2 separate regions of the Homo sapiens genome follow, and region 1 is linked to region 2. Evidence: fine-mapped expression QTL. A gene starts in region 2. The other region holds a variant in brackets. All regions are shown on one strand. Distances are between the middles of the regions.

Region 1 (4,404 bases), 120 kb before region 2:
CCCTATCTCTACTAAAAATACAAAAATTAGCCAGGCGTGGTGGCAGACACCTGTAATCCCCGCCACTTGGGAGGCTGAGGAAGGAGAATCGCTTGAAGCCAGGAGGCAGAGGTTGCAGTGAGCCGAGATCATGCCACTGCACTCCAGCCTGGGTGACAGAGAGTGACTCTGAAGAAAAAGAAAGAAAGAAAGAAAGAGAGAGAGAGAGAGAAAGAAAAAGAAAGAAAGAAAGAAAGAAAGAAAGAAAGAAAGAAAGAAAGAAAGAAAGAAAGAAAGAAGAAAAGAAAAAAGTAAAGAAAGAAAATTTTCCATTATGTGTTTTTACCAACATTTGGCTACCTGGGTCAGAGATTTTTCAGGTACATATAACAAATGACAGAGGAGGTTTAGGTACTGGCATGAGAGTAATTAAAATAACAAACCACAGCATCTGAAATAGAGAATAAAATGAAAACAAAAGAAGGATGATGGATACAAAATTAGGTCATTAGAATGCTAGTCCTGATAAGGGACAAGAATAATAATAGGAAGAGTTTAGAAAATAGCCTGGAAAGATAAATGTTGATCAAAGTAGGAGGTTTGAACTAGTGATTTAGTAACTACAGTAGTTCAGGATGATGACAACGTTCATGGTATGACAGTGAGAATGGTGGCTATTGAGTGGAGAAAAAGGCCATTAGAAATGAGAAGTTTAAAGAAACTGAGACTAAAGGGTGATTTATGTATTGTTAACCTGGATTTTGAAATTACTGAGAGTGTGTGAGGATTTGCATTAAAAAAGAATACACATGTTATGGGCTGAATTGTGTCTATTCTCAAAGTTGATATGTTAAATTCCTAAGCCCTAGTACCTCAGAGCGTGACTGCATTTGGAATTGGGTCTTTAAAGATGTAGTTAAGAAAAAATTAGGTCGTTAGAGTGACCTCTTATAAGAAGAGGAGATTAGGACACAGATACATACAGAGAAAAGACTATGTGAACCCATGTTAAAGAAAAAATATTCTGACACTTGTTAAAACACTAAGGTTTCAAGGTCATTGCACTAGGAAAGACAAGATTGAGCTCAATTTCAAATTTAAAAACAGTTGGTGATTTATAGCCAATCAGCAGACTGAAGGGGCCAGTGGATGGAAAATTACTAAAAGGCAATGCTAAGGAGATTCTTGCTAAACCAACTTAACAGGATTCTTTCTGAATGCAGGCCAAGAACTTAGACATTAAAGGTGGGGGATGTTGAACATGGTCTGATATCAAGGGTGGGGTATTATCTCTTAAATGACTAATCAGGATTCTTGCTAAAAGTACGTTATGCAAGCCTGACAAAAATTAAAAAGAAATTGGGCAAGCTCAAGGTCTAGCTGAAAAAAGGGGCTCAGAGGAATGTCACTAAAGTTTGGTCAAGGAGACTCTTTGTCAGACACAGAGATAAGACAGCAATCTACAAGCCAAGGAGAGAGAAACATCTCAGAAGAAACCTCCCCTACTGGTACTTTAATCTTGGACTTACAGCTTCCAGAATTGTGACAAAATAAATTTGTGGTTTTTTTTAAAGACATGAAGCCGGTGGCTGTTTGTTATGGCAACCCTAGCAAACTAATAAACTGTGATTCAGTAAATGAAGCAGAATAGCCAAGTGAACAGTGGATTGTGGTGACAGAGATGAGTAGAGAGAAATTACAGCCAGATGTCATGATATTAAAGTGACTGATGGAATACCATTCAGCCTTTAAAATGGAAGAAATTCTGTCATTTTTAACAATATGGATGAAATTTGGAGGTCATTATGCTAAATGAAATAAGCTAAACACAGAAAGAAACACCATATGTTTCCACTTATATGTGGAATCTAACACACCCAAACTCATAAAAGTAGAGATTAGAGTGGGGGTTGACGAAGGCGGAGGCTGGAGGGAATGAGATGGCAATCCAAGAGGACAAATACTCAATTAGATAGAAGGAATAAGCTTTATTTTTGTGGAGATCTGTTGCACAGCATAATGCATATAGTTGATATTTCAGTACTATACATTTCAATATTGCTTAGAGAGTAAATCTCAAATGTTCTTAGAATAAAATATGTCAAATATTTGAGGTTATGGATAGGTTCATTAGCTTTATTTAATAATTCCAGGTTGTATTAAAAAGTCATATCATCACCTTCTATCCCATAAATATATAAAACTATAATTTTTTTAATATATAATTTAAAAATTTTTTAAAAGTGGCTGAGGAAGTAGTAGATTACAAGTCATTACAAAGGCCATACAGATTCACCTGCCAACCAAAGTTTGATAATAATAATAATAACATCAACAATGACAATAAAAATAGCACCAAATAATTCTCTATTGATTCCTATATGCCAAGTATTGTTCTAATCACTTAATACACATTAACTCATTTAAT[A/C]CTCAAAACCCTCTTATTACCTCTATTTCATAATAAGAAAACTAAAGCATAGAAAGATTAAATCATTTCTCCAAGGTTATATCACTAGTCAGTCATAGGACTAATATTCAAGCCAAGACATTCAGAATCAATGCCTCTTCTCTGTCTGGACCAATATGCTACAATGTATACAGGATATGGATTTTTTAAAAAAGCCTCCCTTAGCTTTTGTCCAAAGTCACACATCTCATGAAAGGCAGACTCCAGATCCAACTAAATATTCTTCTTTCAATTTTGGTATTCATATTGGCATTCATATTTCGAACAAAAATTTTACTGAACAAATTGTGGTAACCTAGTCAATTGTGATTAATAGTGCCAGTTTGTTAATTCAATTATATAAAGGGAGATTTAACCTGTTGGACAAAAGTGGAAGTTTTAGAAATTACTTAGAAAAATATTAGGTTTAAGAATGTATCATTCACTCTTCTGACATAACATTATAGACCTAAGAATTTTATAATTTAATGGTTTTTTGTTGATATGGTTTGGCTGTGTCCCCACCCAAATCTCATCTTGAATTGTAACTTCCACAATTCCCATGGGCATGGGAGGAACCTGGTGGGAGGTGATTGAATTAAGGGGGCAGGTCTTTCCTGTTCTGTTCTCATGATAGTTAATGAGTCTCGTGAGATCTGATGATTTAAAAAGGGGAGTTTTCCTGCAAGCTCTCTTCTCTTGTCTGCTGCCATGTGAGAAGTGCCTTTCACCTTCCACCATGACTATGAGGCCTCACCAGCCATGTGGAACTGTAAGTCCAATAAACCTCTTTCTTTTGTAAATTGCCCAGTCTTGGGTATGTCTTTATTAGCAGCATGAAAACAAACTAATACAGAAAAATGCTACCACTAGAGTGGGGTTCTGCTGAAAAGATACCCAAAACTGTGAAAGCAACTTTGCAACTGGGTAACAGGCAGAGGTTGGAACAGTTTGAAGGACTCAGAAGAAGACAGGAAAATGTGGGAAAGTCTGGAACTTCCTAGAGACTTGTTGAATGGCCTTGACAAAAATTCTGATAGTGATATGAACAATAAGGTGCAGTCTGAGATGGTCTCAGATGGAGATGAGGAATTTGTTGGGAACTGGAGCAAAGGTGACTTGCTATGTTTTAGCAAAGAGACTGGTGGCATTTTGCCCCTGCCCTAGAGATTTATGGAACTTTGAACTTGAGAGAGGTAATTTAGGGAATCTGGCAGAAGAAGTTTGTAAGCAGCAAAGCATTCAAGAGGTGACTTGGGTGCTGTTAAAGGCATTCAGTTTTAAAAGGGAAAAAGAGCATGAGAGTTTGAGAAATTTGCAGCCTGACAAGGCGATAGAAAATAAAATCCCATTTTTTGAGGTGAAATTCAAGCCAGCTGCAGAAATTTTCATAAGTAATGAGGAACAGAATGTTAGTCCTCAAGATAATAAGGAAAATGTCTCCAAGGCATGTCAGAGGTCTGCGCAGAAGCCCCGCTTATCACAGGCCTGGAGGCCTAGGAGAAAATAGTGGTTTCGTGGGTGGGGCCCAGGGTCCCTGTGCTGTGTGTAGTCTAGGGACTTGGTGCCCTGCATCCCAGCCACTCCAGCCATGGCTGAAAGGGGCCAACATAGAGCTCAGGTTGTGGCTTCAGAAGGTGCAAGCCCCAAGCCTTGGCAGCTTGCACGTAGTGTTGAGCCTGTGAGTGCACAAAGTCAAGAATTGGGGTTTGGGAACCTTCACTTAGATTTCAGAAGATGTATGGAAATGCCTGGATGCCCAGGAAGAAGTTTGCTGCAGGGGTAAGACTCTCATGGAGAACCGCTGCTAGGGCAGTGCAGAAGGAAAATGTGTGGTTAGAGCCCCCAAAGATTCTCTACTGGGGCAGCACCTAGTAGAGCTGTGAGAAGAAGGCCACCGTCCTCCAGATCCCAAAATGGTAGACCCACCCACAGCTTGCACCGTGTGCCTGGAAAAGCTGCAGACACTCAACAGCAGC
Region 2 (4,404 bases):
AATTAGATGACATGATTATGGAGCCTGACAAGTCCCAAGATCTGCAGTTGGCAAGCTGGAGACTGAGGAGAGCCAATGGTGTATTTCCAGCGCAAATGCTGGCAGACTTGAAATCCAGGAAGAAGCAGTGTTTCAGTTAAAGTCTAAAGGCAGGAAGAAATCCCATGTTCCAGATAGAAGGCAGTGAGGCAAGAGTAATTCTCTCTTATTGAGGGAAAGGTCAGCCTTCTGTTGTATTTAGGCCTTCAACTGATTGGATGAGCCCCACCCAATTAGAGAGGAGAATATGCTTTACTCAGTCTATCAATTTAAATGTTAAACTCATCCAAAAAAAAAATACCCTCACAGAAACATCGAGACTAGCCAAATATCTGGGCATCCCATAGCTCAGTCAGGTTGATGCATAAATTAACTATCACACCTACAAAAACAAGAGGGGAAAGGGAGAGGTATAATTGAATTTAAAGAAAACCACAGATAAAATGCCTATCAAAACTTAGATTCATTTTATTCTCTCTTCAGTTGTTTTTAAATCCATCACATCTGAGTGCTTTTGAAAACATAGAAATCTGTCTAGACTCCGTATAATATATATGAAGAAATTGAGATGCAAAAAAGTAAAGTGACTTGTCCAAGGTCACACAGTTCATTAACCATAAAGTCAAACTAAAAGCAAAATCTTACAACTTCAGTGTTCTTTCTAGTCATACACCAGTATAATTTCCCCTTTATCACCTGTATGCATGATATGAGAACTGGATAAAGTACAAACTGAATTTCAAAATGTCAATGATAAATGCATTCTTGATACATGACTGTCTTTTGTAAACATGTCCATCTGTACAAAGTAGTGATTATGATTCAGATCTCAAAGTACTTTGGGCACAGTTATTCCTGAACAGTGTGATGATTTGGAATTAATTCAAAACATACTCTGTTCATCCTCTCATAAGGGTTTTTGAACAAAGAAAATAAACCTTTAACACTGCCTGTGAAAGTAAAAGGCATGATAAGAAGGTTTGTATCCAGGCATGGAGCCAGAATGAACTATTCATTTTCAAGCTGTGGTAACTGAGAGAAGACATCTCTTTTAACCTAACTAGCTTGGAAAAGCACTGCTTTCTTCCTCCATATGTAGACTAAAAATACCATTTCTACATTCCCAAATGGCGTGTTTGTGTGAGTGGTCATGGGTAACCAATACTTTCTTACATGTTTCTAAAATCTGTCAAGTTTTCAGGTAAATATTCATATAGAGACTTTCACATTTTCAGATTAATTTTGTAAAAACTAATTACGAACCCGCATGAGGGTACTGATGCTTTCCCTTAATGAACCATTTTCAAAGTTTCCATAAAAGGAATCTCAAAATAGATTATAATGAATTCCTCTGTCGCATATTATCATGGAACAAAGTGGCACATTTTTAGAAGTGGGCTACTGAGAAATGAATCTAGCAGGGGAGGCGTGAGTAGAAGGAATCTAGAAGAAAATAAGTTTAAACACTTCGCTTTGGCTCACTTGCCTGGGTTTCAGCTGCAGCTACTGTACTTTGATACTGAAGAAGCAGGGCTAGATATTTGCAAGTCCAAGCAGGAGGGCTGCAAGCCTGCAAATCTAACAGCTGGAGAGTGTTGTGGTGGCTGCTTTCCTGTGGTAAGCTGATTTACTTGTTTAAGGTCTGACCTCATCATCCTGTCAGCATGGGTTCCCACCTACACTGTTAGCTGCAGCCTTCTGCTTCTGCTAGAAGGCTACAAGTATTCACAGTGTATCATAGGCAGTGGGGGAGGGGAGAGAAAGCAAGAAAGACTGCTCTCGGCACTTGTGCTTTTGTTAGTTCTACAGAAGAGGCAGAAAAACAAGAGATAACAAAGGCTCCGTTTCCTTTCTGTGAGAGAAGGCTTTTGTCTTTCCTCCTGCTACGATGTCAGTGTCTGGCAAGAAAGAGTTTGATGTGAAACAGATCCTAAGGCTACGCTGGAGGTGGTTTAGTCATCCTTTTCAAGGTTCCACCAACACTGGAAGCTGTCTTCAGCAGGAAGGATATGAGCATAGAGGGACCCCGGTTCAGGGCAGGTTGAAGAGCCACTCTCGGGACAGAAACGGACTGAAGAAAAGCAACAGTCCTGTCCACCACAATATACTGGCACCAGTGCCAGGACCGGCCCCTGCCCATCAGAGAGCCGTTCAGAATTTGCAGCAACATAATCTGATAGTACATTTTCAAGCAAATGAAGATACTCCTAAATCAGTTCCAGAGAAGAATTTATTCAAAGAAGCTTGTGAGAAACGCGCACAAGATTTGGAGATGATGGCTGATGACAATATAGAAGATTCTACAGCAAGGTAAGAGTTTTTGGTCGCATAACTGAATGCCGTAACTTCAGTTAACTTATCCTCTACAATTCATGTTTAGTGTTTAAATAGAAAGTGTCATAATAATCTCTGAGTTTGTATTCAGCCAATCAGAGTCTCTCAGAAACCGTCTCCTCTAAGTTTATAAAAGAAAACAGCAATAATGAATACGTCTTTATAATTACCGGAAATTTGGGGGGTGGGTTATGAGTTTACTTCTCCTATTTTCATTAAGAATTCTGTTTCAATTCTAAGAGATGTTTATTGTAATTACTAATGTTCTATAAATACACTCCGTGGCTCAGATGTTTAAATGCAATTCTTTGTGCAAGTGTTATGAATCACGGAGAACTCTTTCTGACATTGTGAGTTAGGCCAACTTTAACAAAATAAAAGCTGTGACTGATCAGCACATCCTTATCTGTTTCCTTAGTACATAGTTGCGATATTGACTCTTAAAACTGTGTTATCTTTATGTGACAATATGGAATATTTGGCGTTCGGAGACTCATTTCAAGTTGTATTACTTTCATAGCTAGTTTTTGCAAGCATGAAAATATTCTACATAAAGCAGGTAATAAGATGCTACTTACAGCAATGTGATCTTAAAGCGGGAAATGGAGCATTTCAGCTTTTACATAAAATGAAAATTGAATAAACAGTGACGATATAGTGTAGTTTGGGTATAGTTCATAAAACATTTGATTTTGTCTTTACTTTTATGCCCACCGGTATTGTTTGAGTGCAAGAAAATTACATTCTGTTCTCTAATACTGTCAACTATAACTTAACCTAGTGTATCCTTATCTCTTTGTTTTTTGCTTTTTCACTATCAGACATTTTTATAGTCCCAACGTGTTTTAGACACAGTTGATAATATTGGCAATGTAATTAATATTCAGTAGTACTATAGAAAAATAAGTGTTTTTATGCATTTTAGATCATATAGTAGTTCAACATGCTAATTTATTTGGAAACCTGGATATCTGGCATACTATGTCTCTACCTAAAAATAGAGAAGAAGGACTGGCAGATTTGCTTCTTAATATAAGTTTTCCCAATAAAACAACCTCACAGTGTCTTGCTTTCATAAATTCAAAACAGTTTATCAGAAGAAGAAGCAGCCTAATAACATTACAGCAAAATGATGCCTTTATAGGAACTCAGTCTTGTTGAAATATAAACATGCAGAAGACTTTGTGAAATGACATTAATAATAATGTTAGATTGTCTGTCATATAAACTTCTCAGGAAATAAAGCACGTATGTGTGAAATTTTCCTAAATATTTTGTGCTTGCTCGTGGAAAAGCTATATAACTGTAGGGATTGCAGGTTGCATTTGGTACAACAAATAAGACTCTCAAAGTAATATAGAGTCCATAATTTTAAATTCAGCAGGCTTTCAAATTTGTTCTCGTCACCAAGAACAATTTTTAAAAAACTGCTGAATTTGGAGATTAATAAATGAATTTAACTCTGCTGTAGGGAAATTTAAATTACCAACTGTAACTTTGGAACAAAATTATTTGAGAATACATGAATTAATTTTCTAGTATGGGAATATTTACAATAAAATAGATGTTAGAAAAAATGTTAGGTAAAATGTCACATTTAAAGCGTCATCAAGTGACAGTTTAAAAAGCGCATTTATCCTTTGATTTTATTCCTGACATTTTTTATTTTCTAAAGAAATGCCTTGTTAATTATTCTATGGTTTCATTGGAAAGCTAACGTTTTCTTAATATACATACAGGAAATGGTTTTATAGGTGTGCCAAGGATATCTTAGGCAGGAGGGGCTAAATTGAAGATCTTATTAATTGAAATACGATGGTTTATTACCTTCTCCTTAACCATTCTAAATCTTCCTGTCTTGGTCCAGCATCATTTGAGAAGGAGCTTTCTGATGCCTTGCTTCTCCAGTGCCTCTCTTCTTGAGCAATATTGAGGAGCAGGAAGAAAAGATCCCAACAAGTTGGCAGCAGGCTGCCATCCCCTCAATATGACTCCAGTGGTTTTTTAAAAAAGAAAACAGTAGTGAGTGTG

Which allele goes with the higher level. Positions count from the first base shown, and alleles are read on the strand shown. Sizes are in standard deviations (SD) of each study's normalised expression.
With allele C in place of A in region 1, the expression in adrenal gland of the gene that starts at base 1,836 in region 2 is lower (moderate effect, 0.51 SD a copy in GTEx).

What was found. PIP is the estimated chance that this variant, and not a neighbour inherited with it, causes the effect.
Region 1: its variant is the best candidate, but not a certain one, in a credible set for the expression of KLHL4 in adrenal gland (GTEx, PIP 0.80).

Annotation. Positions count from the first base shown.
Region 1 is chrX:87,396,070-87,400,473 of GRCh38, forward strand. No RefSeq gene overlaps it. Among named protein-coding and RNA genes, the nearest start is that of KLHL4, 120 kb to the right of the region's middle. The variant A/C (reference allele first, on the strand shown) is at 2,408.
Region 2 is chrX:87,515,967-87,520,370 of GRCh38, forward strand. It overlaps KLHL4 (kelch like family member 4), which reads left to right and starts at 1,836. Exons shown (of 11, transcript NM_019117.5): 1 at 1,836-2,349. The coding sequence starts at 1,928. RefSeq lists enhancers at 1,016-1,791, 1,792-2,567.